7 separate regions of the Homo sapiens genome follow, and all the other regions are linked to region 1. Evidence: fine-mapped expression QTL. A gene starts in region 1. Each other region holds a variant in brackets. All regions are shown on one strand. Distances are between the middles of the regions. Region 1 holds the start of LINC00910 (long intergenic non-protein coding RNA 910). Region 2 holds the start of LOC124904145 (U2 spliceosomal RNA). Region 3 holds the start of VAT1 (vesicle amine transport 1). Region 4 overlaps NBR1 (NBR1 autophagy cargo receptor). Region 5 overlaps BRCA1 (BRCA1 DNA repair associated). Region 6 overlaps BRCA1 (BRCA1 DNA repair associated). Region 7 has its middle 11 kb from the start of ARL4D.

The links.
Region 2: its variant is fine-mapped to the expression of LINC00910 in naive CD8 T cells (Schmiedel 2018, PIP 0.95).
Region 3: its variant is fine-mapped to the expression of LINC00910 in lung (GTEx, PIP above 0.99).
Region 4: its variant is fine-mapped to the expression of LINC00910 in whole blood (INTERVAL, PIP above 0.99).
Region 5: its variant is fine-mapped to the expression of LINC00910 in whole blood (TOPMed, PIP 0.96).
Region 6: its variant is fine-mapped to the expression of LINC00910 in whole blood (INTERVAL, PIP 0.94).
Region 7: its variant is fine-mapped to the expression of LINC00910 in CD4 T cells (BLUEPRINT, PIP 0.94).

The regions. Positions count from the first base shown.
Region 1 is chr17:43,386,882-43,390,972 of GRCh38, forward strand. It overlaps LINC00910 (long intergenic non-protein coding RNA 910), which reads right to left and starts at 2,017. Exons shown (of 6, transcript NR_027412.1): 1 at 1,408-2,017. It also overlaps the pseudogene RNU2-4P. RefSeq lists enhancers at 68-583, 584-1,099, 1,390-2,143, 1,597-1,826, 2,144-2,897 and a silencer at 1,740-2,034.
Region 2 is chr17:43,286,473-43,290,563 of GRCh38, forward strand. LOC124904145 (U2 spliceosomal RNA) reads right to left here and starts at 4,009; the gene lies at 3,819-4,009. The variant C/A (reference allele first, on the strand shown) is at 1,877.
Region 3 is chr17:43,019,246-43,023,326 of GRCh38, forward strand. It overlaps VAT1 (vesicle amine transport 1), which reads right to left and starts at 3,140. Exons shown (of 6, transcript NM_006373.4): 1 at 2,691-3,140. The coding sequence starts at 3,077. The variant G/A (reference allele first, on the strand shown) is at 1,824.
Region 4 is chr17:43,197,068-43,201,158 of GRCh38, forward strand. NBR1 (NBR1 autophagy cargo receptor) reads left to right here. Exons shown (of 21, transcript NM_005899.5): 16 at 1-39; 17 at 3,100-3,541. Among named protein-coding and RNA genes, the nearest start is that of TMEM106A, 13 kb to the right of the region's middle. The variant T/C (reference allele first, on the strand shown) is at 2,503.
Region 5 is chr17:43,050,771-43,054,770 of GRCh38, forward strand. It overlaps BRCA1 (BRCA1 DNA repair associated), which reads right to left. Exons shown (of 23, transcript NM_007294.4): 20 at 293-347. Among named protein-coding and RNA genes, the nearest start is that of RND2, 28 kb to the left of the region's middle. The variant C/T (reference allele first, on the strand shown) is at 2,002.
Region 6 is chr17:43,098,697-43,102,696 of GRCh38, forward strand. It overlaps BRCA1 (BRCA1 DNA repair associated), which reads right to left. Exons shown (of 23, transcript NM_007294.4): 7 at 1,079-1,184. Among named protein-coding and RNA genes, the nearest start is that of BRCA1, 25 kb to the right of the region's middle. The variant ATG/A (reference allele first, on the strand shown) is at 1,848.
Region 7 is chr17:43,408,028-43,412,118 of GRCh38, forward strand. No RefSeq gene overlaps it. Among named protein-coding and RNA genes, the nearest start is that of ARL4D, 11 kb to the left of the region's middle. The variant AT/A (reference allele first, on the strand shown) is at 2,196.

The sequences.
Region 1 (4,091 bases):
CCGTTGCACTCCAGCCTGGGTACCAAGAGCTAAACTCCATCTCAAAAACAAAAAACAAACAAACAAACAGAGTAAGTTGAAGTCCAGCCTGGGCAACACACCACTGGAATCCATCCCTTTGAAAGGTCATCACCCCTCCACAGCCAAGCTGAGATTTAAAGCCCTCCAAGTAAAGTCGAACATGTTCCCTACTTGGAAATGAATATTCTTGTTTTGGGTCCTAGGATACTCTCCATAAATCATGAACCTTATGATACTTAAAGGAGTAAGAAAACCTACCAACTATCCTAAACTACCCGGCGCAGTCTTTTCTTTCTAACCTTGCAAACAGGTTGTATCCCAGGAGAGGGAGCCCCATTCCTGGAGGTACTGCAATACCAGGTCGACGCGTGGAGTGGACAGAGCAAGCTCCTATTTCATCTCCCTGCTCCAAAAATCTATCTAATATAATTGTTCTCTGATAGAGGACGTATCAGATATTAAACTGATAAGAACAGATACTACACTTGATCTTAGCCAAAAGGACGAGAAGAGATGTCGTCGCCTTCCTCCCTGCCATCACCGTCCCACTCTCATCTACATTCAAGACGCGGTGAGAGCCCCAGCCTCGCTCCTTGCCTCATTCACTTTGTCTTGTCCACACCAATATTGACGCCATTACACACTCGGGCTGATTTCTTATTCTCCACGTTTTAAAAGAAAAATCTGCCGGGCGCAGTGGCTCACGCCAGTAATCCTAACACTTTGGGAGGCCGAGGCGGGTGGATCACAAGGTCAGGAGATCAAGACCATTCTGGCAAACACGGAGAAATCCCGTCTCGACTCAGGAGCTCGAGACCAGCCTGGGGAACACGGTGAAACCCCATCTCTACTAAAAATACAAAAAAATTAGCCGGGCGTGCCGGGCGCGGTGACTCACGCCTGTAATCCCAGCACTTTAGGAGGCCGAGGCAGGTGGATCACGAGGTCAGGAGATCGAGACCATTCTGGATAACACGGAGAAACCCCGTCTCTATTAAAAATACAAAAATTAGCCGGGCGTGGTGGCACGTGCCTGTAGTCCCAGCTACTTGGGAGGCTGATGCAGGAGAATCTCTTGAACCTGGGAGTCCGAGGTTGCAGTGAGCCAAGATTGCGCTACTACACTCCAGCCTGGGCGACAGAGTGAGACTCCATCTAAAAAAAAAACAAAAACAAAAAAACAAAAATTAGTCAGGCGTGGTGTCGCGCGCCTGTAATCCCAGCTACTAGGGAGGCTGGGCAGTAGAATCACTTGAACCCGGGAGGCGGAGGTTGCAGTGAACCGAGATCGCGCCACTGCACTCCAGCTTGGGCGACAGAGCGAGACTCTGTCTCAAAACAACAACAAAACAACAACAACAACACAAAAACCAAGAGAAATCTTACACCAGTTCTAGTTCCGGGGTTTCCGGGCTTTCATTTCGAATTTGCATGCCCTGCCCTTTCCCAGGAGGCGTGGCCACCGCGGTTGACTCCACCCCCGGGCCCGCCTCCAGCTAAGGAGCCGCGGCTGGGCTAGGGGCGACTTCCTTGTTTGTATGAGCGAAAAGACTGAACCAAAAGAGACAGGGGGTGAAAACAAGATAGGTCTGTGGAAGAGACCTGTAGGCGGAGAGCGGTCCCTGTTTTCCTGGAGAAAGACGAGTCGCAAGATATCATCACCAGGGGAAACCAGGCTGAGCTGGATCTTTACGTCGTCACCAGTGGGCGGGGAGACCAGCCTTGTACCCACTGGACAGCGGGCCCATTCCGAGTCAGGGAAGCAGAAGGCCTGGAGGAGCTTCGGGGAGCAGGGGCTGGAGTTCCTCTGCCAGGCAGGAGGCTGACACCAGACACCGGGCAGAGGGAGGCGGCGCATGGACGGCGAGGGCCCAGCAAGGATTCTCCCCAGCCCCTGTGCCTGCGTCTCCTGCGGCTTCTGTGCGCGGACCGTGTCCTGTGCTGTGTAGGGAAAGCTGCTTCTCTGCTTGGGACGTGGATTCCTTTACCCTCCTCCTCGCCTGACTACTTCTGACGCGGGTCGTCAGGACTCCGCTTGGGTGTCACCCGTCCAGGAAGCCTCCCTTAATTAAGGGCCCTCGGCACCCACCCCATATGTGATTAGCAGCCCTCCTGTGTATTTCATCGCACCTCGTTGTTTATATCAACTACTCCACTCACCACCCTTCTGGGCAGTCCTTTATCTCCCCCTCTGAAATCCGATCGCTGAGGGCTGGGACCCTCATCAGTACTTATCCCCGTTTCTCTGCGCTAGTCTAATTAGTGCCTGGCAAGTTGAAGGCGCTCAGTAAACGTTTGTGGAGCGAAGAAACGACGGATAGGGCGTAATGAGCACGACACACGCAATCAGAGAGGACGCAGTTAGGAGGCTATTGGCCCGGGGCAGGCGTGAAGGGGGAAGATCGGGCTCGGGGTGGGAGGACACCAGAGGGCGGGGTGACTGTCGGGGTGCTCTGGAGGAAGATGGGCGTCAAGGCCCCCAGCAAGGTTGGGATAAATTTTCTCTCTGAGGCACAGACTGCCGCCTGTAGCGTCAGCATTTACCATTCCCGTCCTCCTTCCTAACACAACAGTTGAGATGAGAGTTTATGGCTCTTTTATTTGATTTCAGAAAAGCAAGAAGGTATCATAGATCCGATAGTGACACTCAGTCAGTCATGCTCCCCCTGCAGGATGGAAAGCCGGATGGCAGGGATTGCCTGGTGAACAACCAGGTCAAAAAATATAAACTGTGCCTTTCCCAATGCCAGCCTCGGGTCCGAGGGCTCTACGTGCATTATCTCTTTTAGTTCACTCGACAGCCCTAAGAGATGGGCGTTATTATTAGCCACGGCCAGGATTAGGGTGAGGTCATTCCTCTAGGTTCGAATTTCAGGGGGTGATCCTCCAGAACCCTTCAGTAATCAAAATAAATAATAGTTCAATGCAATATATCTTATCTCGATTATAAGATAATCAAGCCATTTATCTGGATTGCTGAGTCTTTTGGTGCCCCCTTATTTTTTTTTTTAACCTCTCAGCAAGTGTTTCCCTCATTTCACTTTACCCCAGTCTCCACCGAGTCATTGTCATCTCCATTCTATTACCCTGTGAAGTGCAATATGGCAGCCACCCACCTCGGCCTCCCAAAGTGCTGAGATTATAGGCGTGAGCCACTGCGCCTGGCCTGTCTGTCTGTCTGTCTATCTATCTATCTATCTATCTATCTATCTGTTCTTTTTTCTGAGACGGAGTCTCGCACTGTCGCCCGGGCTGGAGTGCAGTGGCGCTATCTCAGCTCACTGCAACCTCCGCCTCCCGTGTTTAAGCGACTCTCCTGCGTCAGCCTCCCAAGTAGCTGGGACTACAGGTGCGTGCCACCACACCGGACTGATTTTTTGTATTTTTAGTAGAGACGGGGTTTCACCGTGTTAGCCAGGATGGTCTCCATCTCCTAACCTCGTGATCCGCGTGCCTCGGCCTCCCAAAGTGCTGGGATTACAGGCATGATCCACCGCGCCTGGCCATATCTATCTATATTTTGAGACAAGGTTTCCCTCTGTTGTCCAGGCTGGAGTGCAGTGTTACAATCACGGTTCACTCACCATACACCAAGATAAATGCCAAGTGGGCCAAAGATTTCAAAGTGAAAAAAATGGAACTATAAAAGTATATAAGGGCCAAGGCCAGGCGCGGTGGCTCACGCCTGTAATCCCAGCACTTTGGAAGGCCGAGGAGGGCAGATTACGACGTCAGGAGTCAGAGACCAGCCTGGCCAATGTAGTGAAACCCCATCTCTACTAAAAATAAAATTAGCTGGGTGTGATGGCACGCACTCGTAGTTCCAGCTACTCAGGGGGCTGAGGCGGGAGAATCGCTTGAACTCGGAGGTGGAGGTTGCAGTGAGCCAAGACCATGCCACTGCCCTCCAGCCTGGGTGACAGAGTGCGACTCTGTCTCAAAAAAAAAAAAAAGTATATGAGGGCCAAGCACGGTGGTTCATGCCTGTAATTCCAGCACTTTGGGAGGCCAAGGTGGGCAGATTGCTTGAGCCCAAGAGTTTGAGACCAGCCTGGGCAATATAGCAAGAC
Region 2 (4,091 bases), 100 kb before region 1:
ACACCTGGCTCCTCCTTTTAAGTTCTTAGAAGACAGCAGTAGCAGAACTAGTAGGAGTACCACAGTCTTCGATCTTTCTGATAAGTGCATAGAAGAAACGCTGACGTTTGCTGTCCTCCCTCTCCACCTCGGCTACCACAAAGGGAAAGGCCCCCTGTCCAGTGGACACGTGACTCGCGTGACCTATCGATCATTGGAGATGACTGGCACTCCTTACCCTGCCCCCTTGCCTTGACTACAATAAATAGCAGCGCCTCCAGGCACTCGGGGCCACTACCTGTCTGTCTCCGCGCTTTGGTGGCAGTGGTCCCCCGGGCCCAGCTGTCTTTCTTCCTATCTCTTTGTCTTCTGTCTTTATCTCTTCGATCTCTCGTCTCCGCACACACGCGAAGAGAAAACCCACAGACCCGGTAGGGGTGGACCCTACATTATCTCAGCTACAACATAATCAGGATATTCACGTGGACTACTGAGTCTTTCGGTGCCCCCTTGCTGTTTTAGTTTTGTCCTGCGGCCGAGTGTTTCCCTCGCTTCACGCCAACACAATCTCCGCCGCCCTGTCTTGTCATCCCCATTCTACAGCCCAGCACGGTGTAGTATGGCAGCCGCTAGCCACAGGTATCTAGGGAGCCCTGGAAATGTGGTCAGTTCTAATGGAGCTGCGCTGTTAAGTGTGAAATACACATGGGATTTTGACGGCAGTGGGAGCAAAATTCTCCCAATTTTTTTTTTTTTTTTTTTTTTTTTTCAGACGGAGGTTCCGCTCTTGTTACCCAGCCTGGAGTCCAATGGCGCGATCTAGGCTCTCTGCAACCTCCGCCTCCCGGGTTCAAGCGATTCCCCTGCCTCAGCCTCCCGAGCAGCTGGGACTACAGGCATGTGCCACCACGCCCGGCTAACTTTGTATTTTTAGTACAGATGGGGTTTCTCCACGTTGCTCAGGCTGGTCTCCAACTCCCGACCTCCGGTGATCTGCCCAGCTGCCGCCTCCCAAAGTGTTGCTTGCGATTACAGGCTTGAGCCACCGCTCACCCTGGCTTTTTTTTTTTTTTTTCCAGACAAACTCTCGCTCTGTCGCCCAGGCTGGAGTGCAGTGGCGCGATCTCGGCTCACTGCAGCCTCTACCTCCCGGGTTCCAGCGATTCTCCTGCCTCAGCCTCCTGGGTAGCTGGGATTACAGGCGCAGGCCACCACGCCCGGCTAATTTTTGTATTTTTAGGGGGTTTCGCCATGTCGGCCAGGCTGGTCTCGAGCTCCTGACCTCAGGCGATCCGCCCGCCTCGGCCTCCCAAAGCGCTGGGATTACAGGCGTAAGCCACCGCGCCGGGCTCTTTCATTCTGTCTTTATTTTCTGAGATAGAGTCTCGCTCGGACGCTCAGGTTGGACTGCAACGGCGTGATCTCGGCTCGCTGAAACTTCCGCCCTCCCGGGTTCAAGCGATTCTCCTGTCTCAGCCTCCCGAGTAGCTGGGATTATTGACGGGCAGCACCACGCCCCGGCTACTTTTTGTGGTTTTTGTATCTTCTGTCTTCTGCTCTTTAGTACCGCATAGAGCCGCAGAAGACTAGCGAGTCGAACAAACGGCCCCTCTTGCAGCAGTTGTTGATCACGGGGCTGCCCCCCGGTACTCATCCTGTGTCTCTCGTCCAAATCCCCGCTCCTCCTCAGCTATCACCTCTGCCGATGCTGGTGGTTTCCCTGGGTACCGGGAACCAAACTCTCATTCCCCAGGGGCCTAAGCCCCCCGTGGCCAGGCCCTTCTCAAGTCAGGGTTCCTGCACATTCACAGTTACGGGTGGCCCTGGGAGTAACACCTGGCACCCAAACAGGTCACCAGAGTCCACACATAGTCCACCTGCCCTCCCTGCGTAAGAT[C/A]AGCTCTTCCTCCTCCCGACGATAGATCAGGGTCAATGATCCCTGCCAAGATGGCGACTGCTCCAGCCTGCTGGTCCAACCTGTCCAGCCACAGCTGTTGCTCGAAGGCTTGAAGTTCAATGGGACCCTCTCCCGCTTTCTACAAACTGGTTCCTTTATTTTTATGTTTATTTATTTGGGACGGGGTCTGGCTCTGTCACCCAGGCTGGAGTGCAGTGGTGCAATCACTGCTCACTGCAGCATCCACCTCCCAGCGTCCACCCATCCTCCTGGCCTCAGCCTCCGGAACAGCTGGGGTACAGGTACGCCCCAGCCCGAACAGGTTTTCACTAGGTTGCCTGGGCTCTTTCTTTCTTTGTCTGTGTTTGTTTGTTGGTTGGTTGGTTGGTTGGTTGGTTTTTGTTTGTTTGTTTCGAGACGGGGCTCCGGCTCTGCCGCCGGGGGCTGCAGTGCAATGGCGCGATCTCACCTCACTGCGGCCTTCTGGGCTCAAGCGATCCTCCCACTGTGCCCGGCCTGAAGACAGCCTTTAGAGAAAGAAGCAGGGGGAGTTCTTCCGAGGACAGACAAGATTTCTGGAGTTTGGAAAGGGTGAGAGACTGGGTCAGCGAAAGGAACATTCCGGTCTTTATGTTGGGATGCAACGTATAGATACAGGGATGAGACCCAAAAGAGCCGGCAGAGGTTTGTCATCGTGCTCGCAAGGCAACTGCCGGTGGCTGATCCCGTAAAGGATACACATACCTAGAGCGGAGCCTAAAGATGCATCCAGCATGACGGGTGGAGCCACGATGCTTGGACTCGAGCTCTGCTCCTGTGCGTTCCGTGATCAATGGCTTATACTACCTGCACCTCAGTTTTTCCCGGGCAAAAAAGGAAGCTTGCTGCCGGTGCGTTGGCACCTGCCTTAAAGTGCCAGCTACTCAGCGGGCTGAAGAGGAAGAAGTTCCTACTAGGAAGACACGTGGACACGTATGTTTACTGCAGCACTATTTACAATAGCAAAGACTTGGAACCAACTCGAATGCCCATGAATGATAGGCTGGATAAAGAAAGTGTGGCACGTATACAGCATGGAATTACTACGCAGCCATAAAAAAGGATGAGTTCATGACCTCTGCGGGAACGTGGATGAAGCTGGAAGGCCTCATTCTCAGCAAACTGACACAGGAAGCGAAAACCAAACACCGCATGTTCTCGCTCCTAAGTGGGAGTTGAACAGCGAGAACACATGGGACACAGGGAGGGGAACATCACACGCCGGGCCCTGACGGGGCGTGGGGGGCAAGGGGAGAGAGAGCATTAGGACAAATAGCCAACGCATGCGGGGCTTCAAACCTAGACGACTGGTGGATAGGTGCAGCAAAGCACCGTGGCACACGTGTACCTATGTTCCAAACCTGCACGTCCTGCACATGTACCCCAGAACTTGGGAGGGGGTGGGGGAAACCAAAAGAGCGAGGGAGAGGCGGGGGGGGGGAAGAGAGAGAGAGAGGGAAAGAGAGAGAGAGACAGAGAGAGGAGAGAGAGAGAGAGAGACAGAGAGAGAGACAGAGAGACAGAGACAGACACAGAGAGACGGAGAGACAGAGAGAGAGAGAGAGAGAAAGAGAGAGAGAGAGAGAGAGACAGGAGAAAGAAGAACTCCGGGTGGGTCCCATTCCTTTAAAAGGTCGCCACCCACTCGACTGCCAAGCTGAGATCCTAAGGACCTCCCCAAAGGAGGAGGTCGTGGCCTTCCCAAAGCGCAGTAGCCACGGTGGAAACGAAAGCGTGCCGCATAAGCCTACCGTCTACCGCCCGCACATCAGGAACCTCAAGGTACTTCAGGGAAGCAGTTAAGTCAAGCCGGCGCGTCACAGGCACTCGGCGTGCAAGCCGCCCCGCAGGTGCTACCGTCTCTTACCTCCCTCTACTTTTAGGAAACACGTTGTATCCCCGGAGGGGGTGCACCGTTCCTGGAAGTACTGCAATACCAGGTCGATGCGTGGAGTGGACGGAGCAAGCTCCTATTCCATCTCCCTGCTCCAAAAATCCATTTAATATATTGTCCTCGGATAGAGGACGTATCAGATATTAAACTGATAAGAACAGATACTACACTTGATCTTAGCCAAAAGGCCGAGAAGCGATGCGCTCGCCTTCGCGCCCGCCGTCACCGTCCCACTCTCATCCACATTCAAGTCGCGGTGAGAGCCCCAGCCTCGCTCCTTGC
Region 3 (4,081 bases), 370 kb before region 1:
TCTTTTTGAGCTCCACTTTTCCAGCTCCAGTTTTCTTATCTGTCAATTAGGGCAGTTTTTCCAAATGGAAAAAAAAAATTTTAGCACAATGTCTGGCACATAATAAGCACTTAATAATGTTAGCTAACAATAATAATAATAATAATATAATAGCAGCAAGGAAGTCACACAACCAAAAGAAGACGGCACTGTGTGGTCAGGGCCATACCAAAGTGCAGGCAAAGTTCTCTGAGCGCTTACAGCAGGGTGTGGTCACCTCGGGAGAAGTGTGTTTGAGCCAGCACTGGGAGCCCAGAAAACATCTTCACTCAGAGATGGTGCAGGAGGGGCAACAGACAAGAAGGGCTACAGAGGCCTACGCAGCAGTAAAAGGCTTCCCCCCCACCCCCACGAGAGCCTCTGTGCAGGAGGGAAAGGGGACAAAGATAACAGAACCTTTCTCTCCAGCTTAGCAAGTGGGGTCAAGGGAAGGGCAGGGAAAAGGAGGGAGCGTCAGGAGAAAAGACTTCTCTGCGCTCTCTGAAGAGCATGAAGAGGGAGGTGTGGGTGCTGTTCTGGGACAATCTGGGTCTGTCTTGATCCCTGCCAGGAATGATGGGAATTCTGTATATTAACAAGAGTTAGGGTCCATGGGGAAGGGGGATGGGACTGCCACTTACGCCCTTTTTCATGTCCTCAAGCCCCCACACTCCACTGAATACGAGAACTGAGGGCATGCTGGGGTCTTTCCTTCCAAGTTCTGGCCTGAGATGAGGTCTGGAGAACAAGAACGGAAGCCCTCCACCCAGGGACTCAGGACTAGCAGATACAGAACAACCCAGGAGAGCTGCGAGGAGTGCATTGGTCATTTAGGGTCATGGCCAGTCCCAGATTTGACCCAGAACAAGTCTCACTTACCCTGGCTCATGCTAACCCTCAGGCCATCCAAATCAGGGCCATGACCCCTCCCCAACCCAGACACCAGGAAGGAGGAGGAGGGAGAGAGAGGGAAGGGCCCTCCCCGCAGAATCCAGGCTCTTACATCAGATTCTTGCCCTGGACAGGATATCCTGTATTTACCAGGCGGAAAGTGTATGGAGGGGAGGTGAGGTGGGTGGCCTTCAGCAGTAACATGAACTACAACTACCTCCCGAAAATATTCCTCTTAGACGCCTGCTCAAGAGTGGGATCATTTAGAAGTCAGTTTGAGGGTGGGGCCAGAGCTGAATTCAGAGGAAAGCCTTAAGGAGAAGCTGTTTGCATACAGGATGAATCCAACAAACCTGGCTCCAGAATTGGGCTGGCAGGTCTGCAAGAGGCTGCATCTGTGGGGCCTCTCATTGAGGGGTCTGATTTAAAAAGGAAACTCCTGGCCAAGCGCAGTGGCTTATGTCTGTAACCCCAGCACTTAGGGAGGCCGAGGTGGGCAGATCACCTGAGGTCGGGAGTTCGAGACCAGACTGACCGACATGGAGAAACCCATCTCTACTAAAATACAAAATTAGCCAGGCATGGTGGCGCATGCCTGTAATCCCAGCTACTCGAGAGGCTGAGGCAGGAGAATCGCTTGAACCCGGGAGGCAGAGGTTGCGGTGAGCCGAGATCGCGCCATTGCACTCCAGCCTGGGCAACAAGAGCGAAACTCCGTCTAAAAAAAAAAAAAAAAAAAAAGAAAAAGAAAAAAAAAAGAAACCTCTAAACAAATGGCGTGCTGAGGCCTCATCCCAGGTCTCTCAAAAAGCTGATCATTTTGAGCTCTCTGGTGTCCAGGGTTGTGGCCAAGATTAATGATAAATGAGAAGGAGAAACAGGCCTGCAGACTTGGCCAACCAGTTCAAGGCGCC[G/A]CACCTCTCCGTTCCAGTCCAAACCCCTGGCACTGGGGTTTCTGAAGTGGGGGTCCTCTGCAGGAGGAAGGCAGAGGTGGGTCCCCCCTTCCACTCCCCGCCCCAGGCATTCCCAAGGGCAGCCCCGGGTCGTGGCCCGAAGGCTGAGGGCTGAGTCACAGGAGGAGGAGATACTGCAGTCACGGGAGACACAGAGCCCAAGACAAAGATCGGATGACCCAATCCCGCCTCCCCCACCCCAAAATCAGATCGGCGGTGTAAGGCTGGTGGCGGTGGGGTAGCAAAGGCTCTCTCTCCTCCGTGATGGGCGTGTCTCGTCTCTTTGGCCTTGCTTTGGGAGGGGCCGCCTCACACCCCCACAGACCACGGGGCTGCATGTGACCAGGACTCTGGCACGGCCGCTGTGCCCCCGCCCAACCCCGACGACATAGCCCCTCAAGCTCCCTCGGGGAAAGGGGGCACTAACCGTCACTCATAGTCACAGACCACAATTACCCAGAGAGTGTTTGGTGGGTAGGGGTACAGGTGTGGTTTTAATGGGGGGGGGGGGGGGGGGTGGGGACGGTAGTGTGGTTGTGCGCATGCGCATGGGCACCTTATTGTTTTCCCCCCCACCAGCACAGCTTCTGGGCGGCGGCCACAACTAAAAATGGTTGGGGAAGGGGCGATAATTTCGTCTCCCCTCCCCACATAAATGCCGCTCTCCAGGAGCCCCCAAACACAAGTTCCTTGGCTACGCTTTCCACGCTCGTGCACCCAGGTCCGCGCCAGTTTCTCCCGCCCTGCCACACCCCCGGCGCTCGCCCACTCGTGCCCCACTGCCCAGTGGCCTGCGCAGCCCTGCCCTGCCCTACGCAACCCGCTCACCTTGCGGTCGCTGACTCCCTCGCCCACTGCGATCACAACACCCGCGCCCTCCATGCCCGGAGTGACAGGCAGAGGCGGGAGACGGTCGTACAGCCCCTGCCTAGCCATGAGGTCTGCGAAGTTGAGCCCGCAGGCCCGCAGACGCAGCGTCAGCTGGCCGGGCCCAGGGGCCGGGGGCGCTGCCGGCCGGCTCTGCAGCTTCACCTTGTCGTAGCCTCCAAAGCCGGTGAGCACTAGGCAGCGCAGCAGTGGCGGCGAGGCGGCGGCGGCGGCGGCCCCTTCGGAGGCCGCGGGATGCTGGGGGTCGCTCGCTGCCTCGGTTTTCGGAGGCGGCGAAGAGGCGTCTTCCCCGGTCGCTGCCTCGGCTACCTCTCTCTCGTCGGACATGGCTGGGACTCCCGACGAGAGCGCACAGCTGGATGGAGAGTGCACAGCTGGGGAAGGCGGAACGCGTCGGGAAGAGCCGCGGCTGCGGGATCCAGCGGGAGGGGCGGGGCGCCGGGCGAGGCGGGGCCTCGCGCTCAGCCTTAAAGGGCCAGGGCCATAGTGGCGCAAGCTGGGAGAGCACGAAAAGGGGCACCAGGAACGTCTGTGCTCTTGGGATCAAGCCGACTGTGATTTATTTATTCATAGTAAACCTTATTCAAATTAAAAACTATTTTAAGGGATAGGCCTGGCGCGGTGGCTCACGCCTGTAATCCCAGCACTTTGGGAGGCCGAGGCTGGTGGATCATTTGAGGTCAGGAGTTCAAGACCAGCCTGGCCAACATGGTGAAACCCCCGTCTTTACTAAAAATAAAAAAGTTAGCCGGGCGGTAGTGGCGCGCGCCTGTAATCTCAGCTACTTGGGAGGCTGAGGCAGAGGAATCGCTTGAGCCTGGGAGGCGGAGGTGAGCCGAGATCGCGCCACTACACTCCAGTCTGGGCAACAGAGTGAGACCCTGTTAAAAAAAAAAAAAAAAAGGGCCGGGCGGCGTGGCTCACGCCTGTAATCCCAACACTTTGGGAGGCCGAGGCGGGTGGGTGGATCACCTGAGGTCAGGAATTCGAGACCAGCCTGACCAGTATGGTGAAACCCCAGCTCTACTAAAACTACAAAAATTAGCCAGGCATGGTGGCAGGTGCCTATAGTCCCAGCTACTAGGGAGGCGGAGGCTGGAGAATTGCTTGAACCCAGGAGGCGGAGGTTGCAGTTAGCCAAGATCATGCCGCTGCACTCCAGCCTGGGCTACAGAGGGAGACTCCATCTCGAAAAAAAAAAAGGCCGGGCGCGGTGTCTCACGCCTGTAATCCCAGCACTTTGGGAGGCCGAGGCGGGCAGATTACGAGGTCAGGAGATTCACCTGGCTAACACGGTGAAACCCCGTCTCTACTAAAAAATACAAAAAATT
Region 4 (4,091 bases), 190 kb before region 1:
CAGACCACAACCCTCCTTGCAGACAGAAGTCCTTGCAGAGTGAGTGTCCTTGCATTTCCCCTACCTAGCAGGGTGGCACCTGAATTGTGACTGCCAGACTTGACTAGTTAGATGTGCTCTTCTTCACTGAGACTGAAGGGAGAGTGATCTTAGTTAGAAGTTCTGATCTTGGCGGGGCGTGGTGGCTCAAGCCTGTAATCCCAGCACTTTGGGAGGCCAAGGCAGGCGGATCACAAGGTCAGGAGATCAAGTCCATCCTGGCTAACATGGTGAAATCCCATCTCTACTAAAAATACAAAAAATTAGCCTGGCGACGTGGCGGGTGCCTGTAGTCCCAGCTACTCGGGAGGCTGAGGCAGGAGAATGGCATGAACCCGGGAGGCGGAGCTTGCAGTGAGCCAAGATTGCGCCACTGCACTCTAGCCTGGGCGACAAAGCGAGACTCCATCTCAAAAAAAAAAAAAGAAATTCTGATCTTGTTTGTGTCTTTAGACTCTACGTATGCTACCTGACTGTTCTAATTAGAGCATCAGGAGTAAAGAAGCCATCATACTCATTTCTCCATCTTCTCAGGGGCAGAATTACAGCTGCATTCCACAGTGGAATAGCAGCCAGTTGTGCTGCCTGGATTCTGCAGTAAGGAATCTTCCTGTAATTTGACAGAGCTCCTTAGCAGAGACCCCTATGGGTAGCTGAGTTGTCTGCTTTCTCCAAGGGCAGCAGTCCCAGAAACAGTGGATAGAAGCAGGAGTACCAACAAAGTTTCTCAAGGTTAAATTCTGCTGTAATAAATACCTTTATAGGCCGGGCACAGTGGCTCACCCTTGTAATCCTAGCACTTTATGAGGCTGAGGCGGGTGGATCACCTGAGGTTGGGAGTTCGAGACCAGCCTGACCGACATGGAGAAACCCCATCTCTACTAAAAATACTAAAAATTAGCCAGGTGTGGTGGCTACATGCCAAGGATTACATGCCTGTAATCCCAGGTACTTGGGAGGCTGAGGCAGGAGAATCACTTTAACCCGGGAGGCGAAGGCTGTGGTTAGCCGAGATGGCGCCATTGCACTCCAGCCTGGCAACAAGAGTGAAACTCCGTCTCAAAAAAAAAAAAAGGAATAAATACCTTTATAACAGAAACTTCTAGGTATCAGATAGATAGAACCAATAGCATATATTTTAAGAAGTATCCAAAAATTCAAATATACTATGTCAAAATAATATTGGAGAATCTCTTTATTATAATCAAATTTGACCTATATCTTTAAATATTATTTATCTTACTTTTGTTTAAAGTATACATGTAAGGCCAGGCGCAGTGGCTCACGCCTGTAATCCCAGCACTTTGTGAGGCCGAGGCGGACAGATCACAAGCTCAGGAGTTTGAGACCAGCCTGACCAACATGGAGAAACCCCATTTCTACTAAAAATACAAAAATTAGCTGGGCGTGGTAGCGTGTGCCTGTGATCCAGCTACTCAAGACGCTGAGGCAGGAGAACTGCTTGAACCCGGGAAGCCAAGGTTGCAGTGAGCTGAGATCGCACCACTGCACTCCAGCCTGGGTGACAGAGCGAGACTCCGTCTAAAAAAAAAAAATAATAAAGTGTACATGTGGCCAGGTGCGGTGGCTCATACCTGTAATCCCAGCACGTTGGGAGGCCGAGGTGGGCGGATCATGAGGTCAGGAGATGAAGACTATCCTGGCTAACACGGTGAAACCCCATCTCTACTAAAAATACAAAAAATAAGCTGGGTGTGGTGGCGGGCGCACCTGTAATCCCAGCTACTCGGGAGGCTGAGGCAGGAGAATGGCGTGAACCTGGGAGGTGCAGCTTGCAGTGAGCTGAGATCATGCTACTGCACTTCAGCCTGGGCAACAGAGTGAGACTCCATCTCAAATCAATCAGTCATGTATATCTTTATATTTTTTTCCACATGTGTGTACAAATACATAACAAAAAGGTCTGGAAAGACAGTACCAAAATGTTCACAGCTGTTATTCTGATAGGATTTATGGGTAATTTTTTTTTTTTTTTTGAGATAAGGTCTCACTCGCCCAGGCTAAAGTGCGAGTAGCAAGTTTATGGCTCATTGCAGCCACAACATCCTGGGGTCCCCCTACCTCTGTTTCCCAAGCAACTGGGACCACAGCCACATGCTACCACAATGAGCTAAATTTTTTTTTTTTTGTAGAGATGGGATTTCGCCACGTTGCCCAGGCTGGTCCCAAACTTCTGAGCTCAAGCAGTCTGCCTGCCTTGGCCTCCCAACGTGCTGGGATTTTAGGCGTAAGCCACCACACCTGGCCTGGGTAGCTTTTTTTTTTTTTGGGACACAGTCTCTGTCACCCAGGCTGGAGTGCAGCAGCGCGGTCTCGGCTGACTGCAACCTCCGCCTTCCCAGGTTCACACCATTCTCCTGCCTCAGCCTCCCGAGTAGCTGGCACTACAGGCGCCCGCCACCATGCCCGGGTAATTTTTTTGTATTTTTAGTAGAGATGGGG[T/C]TTCACCGTGTTAGCCAGGATGGCCTTGATATCCTGACCTCATGATCTGCCCACGTTGGCCTCCCAAAGTGCTGGGATTACAAGCGTGAGCCACCGTGCCTGGCCCTGGGTAGCTTTTTTCTATCCTTTTTTACCCTCTCAAACATGATTGGCCAGTTTTCTCCCATGACTGCATCATCTTTGTAAAGAAGAGGAGGAGATAGACATATAATCCTGCAATACTCATCTCCTAACTTTTTCTCTTTTTATAGCACTGTTAGTGTATCAGTTTTGGTTTAAACTCTACTCAGTATATTAACCATCACATAAAAAGGAAAAAAGGGATGGAGCTGCCTCCTTTTATGATTCATAGAGCTTCTTGGAAACCTGAGTGTTTCTGCCTACCTTGTTTCTGTGAGCTTTGATTCTATTTTGTTTTGCATAGTCTTCAAACTTAGAATATGGTCATAGTTCCAGAACCAGCCCTTCCCTTTAGTTCTTCCCTCTCCTCTGGCTTTCATAATTCTAGCTTATGATCCACAAGGCTTTACCAAGTAAGGATAGTACTTAGGCCTGCTTTTAGCTTCCACCTTAAAATTGGTTGCTTTCATCCTTTAGTGACATTTGCCTTGCCTGAAGGACCACTTGGAAATGAGAAGGAGGAGATTATCCATATCGCTGAGGAAGAAGCTGTCATGGAGGAGGAGGAGGATGAGGAGGATGAGGAGGAGGAGGATGAGCTCAAAGATGAAGTTCAAAGTCAGTCCTCTGCTTCCTCAGAGGATTACATCATCATCCTGCCTGAGTGCTTTGATACCAGCCGCCCCCTGGGGGATTCTATGTACAGCTCTGCGCTCTCACAGCCAGGCCTGGAGCGAGGTGCTGAAGGCAAGCCTGGGGTTGAGGCTGGGCAGGAACCAGCTGAGGCTGGGGAAAGACTCCCTGGAGGGGAGAACCAGCCACAGGAGCACAGCATAAGTGACATCCTCACGACCTCACAGACTCTGGAAACAGTGCCCCTAATCCCAGAGGTAGTGGAGCTTCCACCGTCACTGCCCAGGTACCACTCACAGCCCCCTCAGCTGGGGTGTTCTTCAGAGGTGAAATAAAGAGAGGAATCGACCTGATCTCAAAACCTGTTTTTTCCTCAGTATGGAAAGAGACTATTTTCCATAGCAAAGTCTGAATTTAGATGAATAAAAGTTGTATTTCCCAGTATTTGTGGATTCTGGATTTAAAGAAATATTTGTTTTAGTTGGCCTTAAATTATCTGAGTATAGTCTGTCTGCTTATATTTTGATTATTGAGAGCTGGTTGTGTTTTTTTTTTTTTTTTTTTGAGACAGGGTCTCAGTCTGTTGCCCAGGCTGGAGTGCAGTGGCACAATCTTGGCTCACTGCCACCTCTGCCTCTGAGGCTCAAGCAATCTTCCCACCTCAGCCCCCTGAGTAGCTGGGACTATAGGCATGGGCCACCACACCTAGCTAATTTTTGTATTTATTGTAGAAGCGGGGTTTTGCCACGTTGTCCAGGCTGGTCTTGAACTCCTGGCCTTAAGCGATCCAACTGCCTGGGTCTCCCAAAATGCTGGAATTACAGGTGTGAGCCACT
Region 5 (4,000 bases), 340 kb before region 1:
CTCACTAACATGTTGGCACTAACAGCAGCTCAACGCCATCTGAACACATAACATACTGAATCCTAACTATTAACCACCTTCATGCTCTTGAGAAGGGGGACAAGGTATAGTTTTTTTTTGCCATAGGATAACATTTAGGTGCTGTTTTGTTTGGAGAGTGGTAGAGAAATAGAATAGCCTCTAGAACATTTCAGCAATCTGAGGAACCCCCATCGTGGGATCTTGCTTATAATACTCCACTATGTAAGACAAAGGCTGGTGCTGGAACTCTGGGGTTCTCCCAGGCTCTTACCTGTGGGCATGTTGGTGAAGGGCCCATAGCAACAGATTTCTAGCCCCCTGAAGATCTGGAAGAAGAGAGGAAGAGAGAGGGACAGGGGAATGGAGAGAAGGAAAATCTAGTTATAAAAGAATATTGGCTTTTATTCAAAAAACAGACTTTCAAAAAGGAAGAGCTTTTCTTTTTCTTCTGTTCACCACCTGATGATTTCTGCTGCTACTTCCCAGGGACAAGCAGTCCAATGTCCAGAACACTACTGGATTTCAGAAGATCTTCTTGAAGTGCATATGTAGTTGACCTGCACTCTACAGGCATTCTTTGTCATTCAAGGACTGAGCATCTCACTTTTGTCACCAATCAGGCCAAGGCTCCTCCCTAATGATCTCTGCAGGTGCTTTAACTTGTTAGATGCAAGGGAAAAAAGGTCCTTCTGTATGTTTAATAAGAGGCTTGGATGGCTAGAAACTCAAAGTTATTGGCTGAAGTTTGATGTTTATCCAGACTTGGTACCTCAAGTACTCACTATGACCCCATCAACAGAGGGGTCTATGTTGATTTTAGGTGTACATGCTCCTTGTCTCCTCTGACTTTTTTTTTTTTTTTTGAGACGGAGTCTCTCTCTGTCACCTAGGCTGGAGCGTAGTGGTGCGATCTGGGCTCACTGCAACCTCTGCCTCCAGGGTTCAAGCGATTCTCCTGCCTTAGCCTCCTGAGTAGCTGGGATTACAGGCGCGCACCACCACGCCCGGCTAATTTTTGTATTTTTAGTAGAGACAGGGTTTCACCATGTTGGTCAGGCTGGTCTCGAACTCCTGACCTCGTGATCTGCCTGTCTTGGCCTTCCAAAGTGCTGGGATTACAGGCATAAGCCACTGCGCCCGGCCCTCTCTGACTTTCTTCTAGCCCCCTAAACATCTGTTCCTTCCTTCTCACTACTCTGAGAATGGCCATTGTATCTTTAGGCCACCTAAGCAGTTTTTAATCTAGAAGTGAAGCCAGGTTCTGCCTCTCCTCATTGAACTAGTCTGACTACCTGGTTTCCTGAAGACACAGATCACACTGCACTGCCTCTTCCACTTACAGGGCTTGGCAACACTGTTCAAAACAACTTTCTGTGATAGTCACAATGTTCTATATCTATGCTAATAAGGTAGCCATGAGTCACATATAGTTATTGAGCACTGGAGATGTGGTTAGGGTGAATGAAGAACTAAACTTCATATTTTAATTTTTTTCTTTTTTTTTGAAGAGATGAGGTCTCATTCTGTCACTCAGGCTGGAGTACAGTGGCACGATCATAGCTTGCTGCAGTATTGAACTTCTGGGCTCAAGCAATCCTCTTGCCTCAGCCTCCTAAGTAGCTGGGACTACAAGTGCACACCACCATGACTGGCTAATTTGTAAAATTTAAATTTAAACAGTCCCATGTGGCTGGTGGCAACAGTGTGGGACAGTGCAAATTCTCATAAACACACTGGCATAGGTTCTTAGCAAATAACTTGGGTATCACTTAAAAATAAACCCTAAAATTGTATCATTTTGGATGGATATGTTTTGGGTGACTCTCAGTGTCTTGACCTTCCCATTGCAATAAAAAGAAAATTGCCAAGGCCTAAAATTCACCTGGCTTCAAAGAGACTGCGATAGAGAAAAAAATCAGGAAGCTAAAAATACACGGATGGCCTTTTAGAAAGTGGTCACCCTCCCCCTTGACAGACAGA[C/T]GGACAGAAACACACACACACACACACACACACACACACACACACACACACACTCTCTTACTTTACCGCCAGAGTGAAAAGAAATGGCAGTAGGACAAGTCTGTGTGTTTTTTTTTTTTTTTTGAGACGCAGTCTTGCACTGTCGCCTGGGCTGGAGTGCAATGGTGCCATCTCGGCTCACTGCAACCTCCACCTCCTGGGTTCAAGTGATTCTCCTGCCTCAGCCTCCCTAGTAGCTGGGATTACAGGTGCACACCACCACACCCGGCTAATTTTTTGTATTTTTAGTAGAAACGGGGTTTCACTATGTTGGCCAGGCTGGTCTTGAACTCCTGACCTCATGATCCACCCGCCTCAGGCTCCCAAAGACAAGTCTGTTTGTTTTAAGGGACAGCATCCATCTGTGCCACTCTCACTACCTGTATGAATAAACCGCACCCCCAACCTGTTGATAGGACCTGCATGCTCATAATGCTAGAAGTTCTCCCCAGGCAGCCAAGTGGAGCCAAATGCTGACATGAAAAGTACAAAAGATTAGGAATGTTTATATCCAGGCTAACACTCAGTGATGAGGATGCCTAGTTATGAGATAAGAAATTTGAAGTTTCGGGCTTGGCGTAGTGGCTCACGCCTGTAATCCCAGCACTTTGGGAGGCTGAGGCAGGCGGATCACGAGGTCAAGAGATGGAGACCATCCCGTCTAACACAGTGAAAACCCGTCTCTACTAAAAATACAAAAAATTAGCTGGGCATGGTGGCGGGCACCTGTAGTCCCAGCTACTTGGGAGGCTGAGGCAGGAGAATGGTGTGAACCCAGGAGGTGGAGTGGAGCTGGTAGTGAGCCGAGACGGCGCCACTGCACTCCAGCCTGGGTGACATAGCGAGACTCTGTCTCAAAAAAAAAAAGAAATTTGAAGTTTCAGGCCGGGCGCGGTGGCCTGTAATCCTAGCACTTTGGGAGGCCGAGGTGGGTGGATCACTTGGGGTCGGGAGTTCAAGACCAGCGTGACCAACATGGAGAAACCCCATCTCTACTAAAAATACAAAATCAGCTGGGCGTGGTGGCACATGCCTGTAATCCTAGCTACTTAGGAGGCTGAGGCAGGAGAATCACTTGAACCCTGGAGGCAGAGATTGCGGTGAGCCAAGATCACGCCATTGTACTTCAGCCTGGGCAAGAAGAGCAAAGCTTCGTCTTAAAAAAAAAAAAAAAGAAATTTGAAGTTTCACCTCTACATATACATTTCTCTTCCAGAGAAAAATACTATGGTGACATTTAGTATTTTCAGAATGTCATTACTTTGACCACATACTTTCCATCATTGCTATTCTGCATGGAGGAAAAAATCCAAAGCACTAGAATTTCTTTTTAAAGAGGGGAAGAATCTGGTGCTAATACTGCCTAGCATACAGTGGAGGAAAAACAGAGGACTGGCTCACATGGCGCTCCCCTGTGGTAAAGGCAGAAGCAGAAATAAGGCCAGCAGCTTTTCTTGGCATCTGGAACAATTACTTGATAGGCTCAGAAGGTAAAAACAGGCTGACCTCAGCAGTTCAAAACTCCAGGCTTCATTTGTGATCATGTCCCAAAGCAGTTTTCCTTAGGAAATTACCTCTACTGGTTCCCTCTTAAGTTTCTATAAAGGGACAGAAAGTGCTCAGTAGAAGGATGTTTTGTTTTGTTTTGAGACAAGGTCTCACAATGTTGGCCAGGCTGGAGTGCAGTAGCACCATCATGGCTCACTGCAGCCTCGACCTCCCAGACTCAAGCATTCTTCTCACCTCAGCCTCCTGAGTAGCTGGGAATACAAGAGTGTGCTACGACACCCAATTAATTTTTAAATTTTTTTGTAGAGACAGGGTCTTACTATGTTGCCCAGGCTAGTCTTGAACTCCTGGGCTCAAGTGATCCTCCTGCCTTGGCCTCCTAAAGTGCTGGGATTACAGAAGTGAGCCGCTGTGCCCAGCTGGGATTTTTTTTTTTTTTTTGAGATGAAGT
Region 6 (4,000 bases), 290 kb before region 1:
AGGGTTCCCCTATGTTGGCCAGGCTGGTCTTAAACTCGTGGACTCAACCAATCCTTCTGCCTCGGTCTTCCAAAGCGTTAGGATTACAGGCACGAGCCATCCTGCCCAGCCAAGATTCAGCTCTTTTTTTTTTTTTTTGAGATGGAGTTTCACTCTTGTTGCCTAGGCTGGAGTGCAATGGTGCGATCTTGGCTCACTGCAACCTCTGCTTCCTGGGTTCAAGCGATTCTCCTGCCTCAGCCTCCTGAGTAGCTGGGATTACAGGCATAAGCCACCACCCCGGCTAATTTTTTTTTTTTTTTTTTTAGTAGAGATGGGGTTTCTCCATGTTGGTCAGGCTGGTCTTGAACTCCCGACCTCAGGTGATCCGCCCACCTCGGCCTCCCAAAGTGCTGGGATTACAGGCGTGAGCCACTGCGCCTGGCAATTCAGCTCTTCTTAAAAGGCTTCCTCATCTAGTACAATTTATCTTGGAACTAAATACTGTAGCAATCCATCATGTTTTTTCTTATTGCTACTCTCCATCTTTCCAAAACATATTTACACATATTTAAAACCAGATATTCTTTCTTTTGCTCTCTTTTTTTTTTTTAGATGGAGTTTCGCTATTTTTGCCCAGGCTGGAGTGCAATGGTGCGATCTCGGTTCACCGCAACCTCCACCTCCCGGGTTCAAGTGATTCTCCTGCCTCAGCCTCCCGAGTAGCTGGGATTACAGTTATGTGCCACCACACCTGGCTAATTTTTTATTTTTTGGTACAGACAGAGTTTCTCCATGTTGGCTAGGCTGGTCTCGAACTCCCGACCTCAGGTGATCCACCCACTTTGGCCTCCCAAAGTGCTGGGATTACAGGTGTGAGCCACCATGCCTGGCCTCTTTTGCTCCCTTTTTAAAGTAAGATTCTTCAAGGTGGGAACTGCGTCTTTTACATTTTTTATAACTCACCATAGGGCTCATAAAATTCACTTCCCAAAGCTGCCTACCACAAATACAAATTATGACCAAGATTTTTGGCAAAACTATAAGATAAGGAATCCAGCAATTATTATTAAATACTTAAAAAACCTGAGACCCTTACCCAATTCAATGTAGACAGACGTCTTTTGAGGTTGTATCCGCTGCTTTGTCCTCAGAGTTCTCACAGTTCCAAGGTTAGAGAGTTGGACACTGAGACTGGTTTCCTGCTAAACAGTATGGTAAAGAACAGTCAAGCAATTGTTGGCCAGTTCTGTGCTTTTCCTCCTGAAGAGAAACTTGACACCATGGACAAAATAAATTGACCATCATCAGTCAGCTAACATGTATGATGCCTGGAAAAAATGCCCAGGAATTTACACACTAAAATGTCTGGGGCTGGGAGCGGTAGCTCATGCCTATAATCCCAGCACTTTGGGAGGCTGGAGCAGGACTGCTTGAGGCCAGGAGTTCAAGACCAGCATAAGCAACAGAGTGAGACCCAGTCTCTACAAAATAATAGTAGTAGTAATAATAAAATGTGTGGGATATGTGTGATTTGAATTTTTTTTTCTGTTGTCTTAAATTTTTCAAACCTGATTATGTATTATTTGTGTAATTTTTGAAGTATTAATATAGCATATTTTGAAGCTGATACTTGATATACATTCCAATCACATCTGATAACTTTTTTTTTTGTTTTGGGGGGTGTACAGAGTCCTGCTCTGTCACCCAGGCTGGAGTGCAGTGGCGCAATCTCAGCTCACTGCAACCTCCGCCTCCTAAGTTCAAGAGATTCTCCTGCCTCAGCCTCCTGAGTAGCTGGGTCTACAAGCGTGTGCAACTATGCCTGGCTAATTTGTGTGTGTGTGTGTATATATATATACATATAT[ATG/A]TGTGTGTGTGTGTATATATATATATAACATATATATAACATATATATATTATATATATATAACATATATATAACATATATATATGTTATATATATATAACATATATATAACATATATATATATATATATATAATATATATATATATATATATATATGTAATCCCAGCACTTTGGGATATATGTGTATATATGTTTTTTTTTTTTGAGACAGAATCTTGCTCTGTTGCCAGGCTAGAGTGCAGTGGCGTGATCTCGGCACACTGCAACCTCCACCTCCCTGGTTCAGTTGATTCTCCTGCCTCAGCCTCCCGAGTAGCTGGGACTACAGGCGTACACCACCACGCCTAGTTAATTTTTGTATTTTTAGTAGAGACAGGTTTCGCCATGTTGGCCAGGCTGGTCTCACACTCCTGACCTCAGGTGATCTGCCTGCCTCGGCCTCCCAAAGTGCTGGGATTACAGCCATGAGCCACCGTGCCTGGCCAATAACATTTTTAAAAAGGATAAATGATGACAATAAAACCCCAGCACTCCTAAGAACATTTAGTATAGGAACGAGTATTTAAAAGCCCAACATTACTTTTTTTTTCCTTCCTTTTTAGCTCTATATCTTTTGAAAAATGAATGCTGGTACTGTGAGAACTACTTTTATTTTATTTGTATTTTTTTAGACAGAGTCTTGTTCTGTTGCCCAGGCTGGAGCGTGGTGGCGTGATCTCGGTTCACTGCAACCTCTGTCTCCTGGGTTCAAGTGATCCTCCCACCTCAGCCTCCCAAGGAGCTGGGACTACATGCGCACGCCACCATGCCTGGCTAATTTTTGTATTTTTTGTAGCGATGGGGTTTCACCACATTGCCTAGGCTGGTCTTGAACTCTAGGACTCGAGATCCACCCGCCTTGGCCTCCCAAAGTGCTGGGATTACAGGCAAGAGCCACTGCGCCCAGCTAGAACAATTACTTTTTTTTCTTTTTTGAGACAGAGTCTCACTCTACGGCCCAGGCTGGAGTGCAGTGGCGCGATCTTGGCTCGCTGCAACCTCCGCGTCCTAGGTTCAAGCAATTCTTGTGCCTCCGCCTCCCGAGTAGCTGGGATTACAGGTACGTGCCACCACACCCAGCTAATTTTTGTATTTTTAGTAGAGATGGGTTTCACCATGTTGGCCAGGCTGGTCTCAAACTCCTGACCTCAAATTATCTGCCTGCCTCAGCCTCCCGAAGTGCTGGGATTACAGGTGCAAGCTACTACGCCCAGCCCCAGAATGATTACTTTTTAAGATCTCCATCATTCATGCACATATAAGTAACAACAGAGCAAATCACTACATTTTCTTTAACAATTACACCTTTTAAGTTCAAGTAATTTTCCCTTTTTTTAAAAGATAGGGTCTCAGTCACCTGCGCTGGAGTCCAGTGGCACAGTCATAGCTCAACTGCAGCCTTGACTCTCTATGTTAAAGCAATGCTCCAGCCTCAGCCTCCCAAGTAGCTAGGACCACAGGTGCATACCACCACGCCCAGCTAAGTTTTTTTGTTTTTTTTTTGAGACAGAGTCTCACTCTGTCGCCCAGGCTGGATCGCAGTGGCGGGATCTCGGCTCACTGCAAGCTCCACCTCCCGGGTTCATGCTATTCTCCTGCCTCAGCCTCCCGAGTAGCTGGGACTACAGGAGTCCGCCATCACGCTCAGCTAATTTTTCTGTGTTTTTAGTAGAGACGGGCTTTCACCATGTGAGCCAGGATAGTCTTGATCTCCACACCTCGTGATCCACTTGACTCGGCCTCCCAAAGTGCTGGGATTACAGGCGTGAAGCTTTTTTTTTTTTTTTTTTGAGACGGAGTCTCGCTCTGTCGCCAGGCTGGAGTGCAGTGGCGCAATCTCGGCTCACTGCAACCTCCGACTCTCAGGTTCAAGTGATTCTCCATCCTCAGCCTCTGGAGTAGCTGGGATTACAGGCACGTGCCACCACACCCAGCTAATTTTTGTATTTTTAGTAGAGACCGGGTTTCACCATGTTGGCCAGGGTGGTCTCAATCTCCTGACCTCATGATCCACTGGCCTCAGCCTCCCAAGGTGCTGGGATTGCAGGTGTTAGCCGCCGCACCCAGCCAGTTCTTTTTTTTTTTGCAACTAGATCTTGCTTTGCCGCCCA
Region 7 (4,091 bases), 21 kb after region 1:
GTTGGAGAATTTATCTGGGAAGGCTTCCTGGAGGAGGTAAGGAAAAGAAGTCAGCTTGGAGCCAGAATTAAGTATTCTGATTAATGAGGGACCTGGAGCATTGTAGGCTTCGGAGCACCTTTTTGGCTCCACCTACTCCTCAGGAGGAAAGGCCTGAGTCTGAGGTTTAATAGATACAGTTTTGTTCCTCCTTTCCCTGTAATTACCTGGCCTGAGACACTCTCAGACTCTGTCCACCACTCCTGTCCTTCAACTCCTCCCACTGTCACCTGAGGATAGGCTGTATCTAGATTCACATTCTCTACCTCCTACTCCAGAAGAGTAGGTTGTAGGGCAGGTGTCAAAGAAGAGACTCCCAAGCTCTAGACCTGTGGTGTCCAATATGGCAGCCATGAGCCACACATGGTGATTGAACATGGGGAGTGTGGCTGGTCTGAACTGAGATATGCTGTACGTGTAAAATACACAACAGATTCAGAGCCTTCATGTGAAAAAAGAATGTAAAATTTCTTATTAATACTTTTTATATTGATTATGCATATGTTGAAGTGATACTTTTTACATAATGAGTTAAATAAAATGATTAAAATTAGATTCAGTTGTTTCTTTTTAACATTAAAATGTGGCTATCAGAAATATTAAAATTACATATGTGGCTCACATTCTTCACATTCTGTTTCTTTTCTTTTCTTTTCTTTTCTTTTCTTTTCTTTTCTTTTCTTTTCTTTTCTTTTGAGATGGAGTCTTGCTCTGTCGCCCAGGCTGGAGTGCAGTGGCGTGATGTCGGCTCACAGCAACCTCTGCCTCCGAGGCTCAGGCGATTCTCTTGCCTCAGCCTCCCAAGCAGCTGGGATCACAGGTGCCTGCCACCATGCCCAGCTAATTTTTAGTAGAGATGGGGTTTCATTATGTTGGCCAGGCTGGTCTTGAACTCCTGGCCTCGGAGTCCACCCACCTTGGCCTCCCAAAGTGCTGGGACTACAGGCGTGAGCCACTGTGCCCGGCTTCACATTCTGTTTCTACAGATAGTGCATCCACATATTTGGGGGGAAGGAGCATTATGAGTAAAAGAATGAAACACTTGTTCTCCTTTTTGTCTGAAATCAGAAGAGAAACAGGGCCAGGCGCAGTGGTTCATGTCTGTAATCCCAGCACTTTGGGAGGCTGAGACGGGAGGATTGCTTGAACTCAGAGTTCAGGACCAGCTTGGGCAACTAAAGAAGATCCTGTCTTTACAAAAAGAAAAATTAGCTGTGCATGGTGGCTCCTGTGGTCCCAGCTACTCAGAAGGCTAAGGAGGGAGGATTGCTTGAGCCTAGGAGGCAGAGGCTGCAGTCGTTGTGTTCAAACCACTGCAACTGCACTCCAGCTTCAGTGACAGAGTGAGACCCTGTCTCAGAGAAAAAAAAAAAAAGAGAAACAGACCAGAACTGTAACAGTATGGAAGGAAGGTAAATTATAGGAAGGCCTTCTTGATAGGAAGGACTGAAAAACCTGAAAGATCCACATACTTCTTTTCTTGGAAAGCTTTCAGAATAGGAGAGGACTTTGCATATCTTAAATCATTTTAAGATGGTATCTTATCATACTATGATTCTCAGTGATCCAAACTTGGTTACTTAGCAGGTGACTTTCCTGGCCTTGTTCAAGGTGTTTTCACCACACAAACAACTCTTAATTGTCTACTTGGTGATGAGCCCAGATACCTGGAATCCATAGAAAATTCCTAACATGATTTTACCCAATAGTTTCTAATCTTTCATCAGACTGCTGAGGCAGCAGCAACAGTGTTGACAGACTGAGGTTTCATCATCCTGCCCTCCCCTGCTGCCTGTCTCTGCCCACCCTCTACCCCCGGGAAAGTGCTGGAGCAGAGGGAGGGTTCAGGGAGGCAATATTGAGAAGGAACATGCCAGCTGGGGGTCTGGATAATCCACAAACTGGATTATCTGTCCCTGACTTTGCATAGATGTAAGCAGGTGGCCTATATGTAGACAGGATGTACTGGGATGAGCCATGGGCATCTGGTTAACGTGTGTGTGTATATGGGGGGGTGGTCCTACAATAAATTCCCCCACCTACTTATCTCCCATCCAGAGCATTAATTCAACCAATCACTCCTTCTTTCAATTAACCACATATAATATGAATAGTATTTAGCATTATTTACTGTAGTTTCATAGTGAGAGACTAGA[AT/A]TTTTTTTTTTTTTTTCAAGACGGAGTCTTGCTCTGTCGCCTAGGCTGGAGTGTAGTGGCGCGATCCAGGCTCACTACAACCTCTGCCTCCTGAGTTCAAGTGATTGTCCTGCCTCAGCCTCCTGAGCAGCTGGGATGACAGGCTCACGCCACCAGGCCTGGCTAATTTTTGTATTTTTAGTAGAGACGGGGTTTCACCATGTTGGCCAGGCTGGTCTTGAGCTACTGACCTCATATTATCCGCCCACCTCGGCCTCCCAAAGTGCTGGGATTACACATGTGAGCTACCACGCCCGGCCGAAAAAATTTTTAAAAATCTTTATTGTGCACTGAAGGCTGACTAGGGGCTGACACAGCATCCTAGGCACTGGAGCTAAGGTGCAATTTGTACCCAAAGAAGTGTCTTAGATCTGGTTCCCTTGATGTGCAGACTGAGATGGGGATTTGGGCGGCACATGGTTTATTGTGAGGCAAACTCTCAGGAGAAGGGAGGAAAGGAAAGAGGGTGGGGCACAGAGTGGGGAAGCAAGGATGTGCTTCACAGCTGAGTCTGGTTTTGGCTTGATCCTGTGGGAAGCTCTGGGTGGACAACTGTATGACAGAAAGGATCCCACCTGAGTCAGGGAGGCTAGTTTTTTATGTCCCTGTCAGTCAGCTAATTGGCTGCCCTCTAGGCCAAGGGCAAGTCCAGAGATGGAGAGCCATTGGCAGCCAAAACTCACAGTCAGCACCGGGAATCTGGGTGGAGCACCAAGGCATCCACTCAGGGAGTAGCCTGAGAAGAGAAGAGTGAGCTGACCCGAGCAAGCACAGCCCTGATTGTTATCCACACTTGGCAACCCAGTCCTCTTTCTACTCTCACTCTCAGCCTGGCCTCAACCCTTATCTGCCCTTGTCCCACCTTCTTTCTCTTTCTGTTTCTTTTTCTTCCTCTTTCTTTCCTTCTTTCTTTCTTTCTTTTTTTTTTTTTTTTTTTGACAGCGTCTCACTCTGTTGCCCAGGCTGGAGTGCAGTGGCATGGTCACGGCTCACTGCAGCCTGGAACTCTTGGGCTCAAGCGATCCTCCCACCTCAGACTCTCTAGCAGCTGGGACCACAGGTGCACACCACCATGCCCAACTAATTACTTTTTGTAGAGACAGGGTCTCACTATGTTGCCCAGGATTCCTACTTCTGATCCTGCCTTGTCTGTCTTGAGAATGTTTATCAGGTTGAAACCTTGAGTTTCTTCAAGAGGCTCCAGGAGGCTGTGGCTACTGAGTCATTCCTTGACCTCTTTCCTTGCCTATGGGTCATCTGAGCCCCACTGTTCCCTTAGGCAGAAAACTTTGATATCCTTGGGGACATCTGACCCTAACCCCTTCTCTTGCTCTTTCTCCTTTATTGGGTGTACCCATCCCATCTCCTGTGGTGGAGAAAGGACAGTTCAAGAGAAATTCATTCTCAAGGCTTGACTCCTACTTAAACATCACAGGATACATTCCCTGGAAGGGGAAGGGTGCGTCTGTACTGGCTTCCTTAGAAACTTCAGAACAGAAAAGACGCCTCCTTTCCCTCCCCCTCCCCAATTCAAACAGGGGCTGGGAGAGAGGAAGAGATTATTGTTTCAGGGGGTGGGGGGTGTGGATGGACTGAGTGCTGAAACTTCCTTTTCTTCTGGCACAGCTCTATTTGTAGAAGTGCCAGAGTCCTGGGGAGAAAAGCAAGAGAGGGAGAAAAAGAACATTATTTGAGGGCATTTGGCTGCTCTTTTACACTCGAGATCAAACAGAGAAAATCCAGCGTCATGCCCTCCCCATCTTTCTGTCCCTAGCATGTAGATGTCCTGTGGTGTGTCTCACAAATGCACATGCACATGCATGCGAACACACACACAAACACGCACACACACCCTC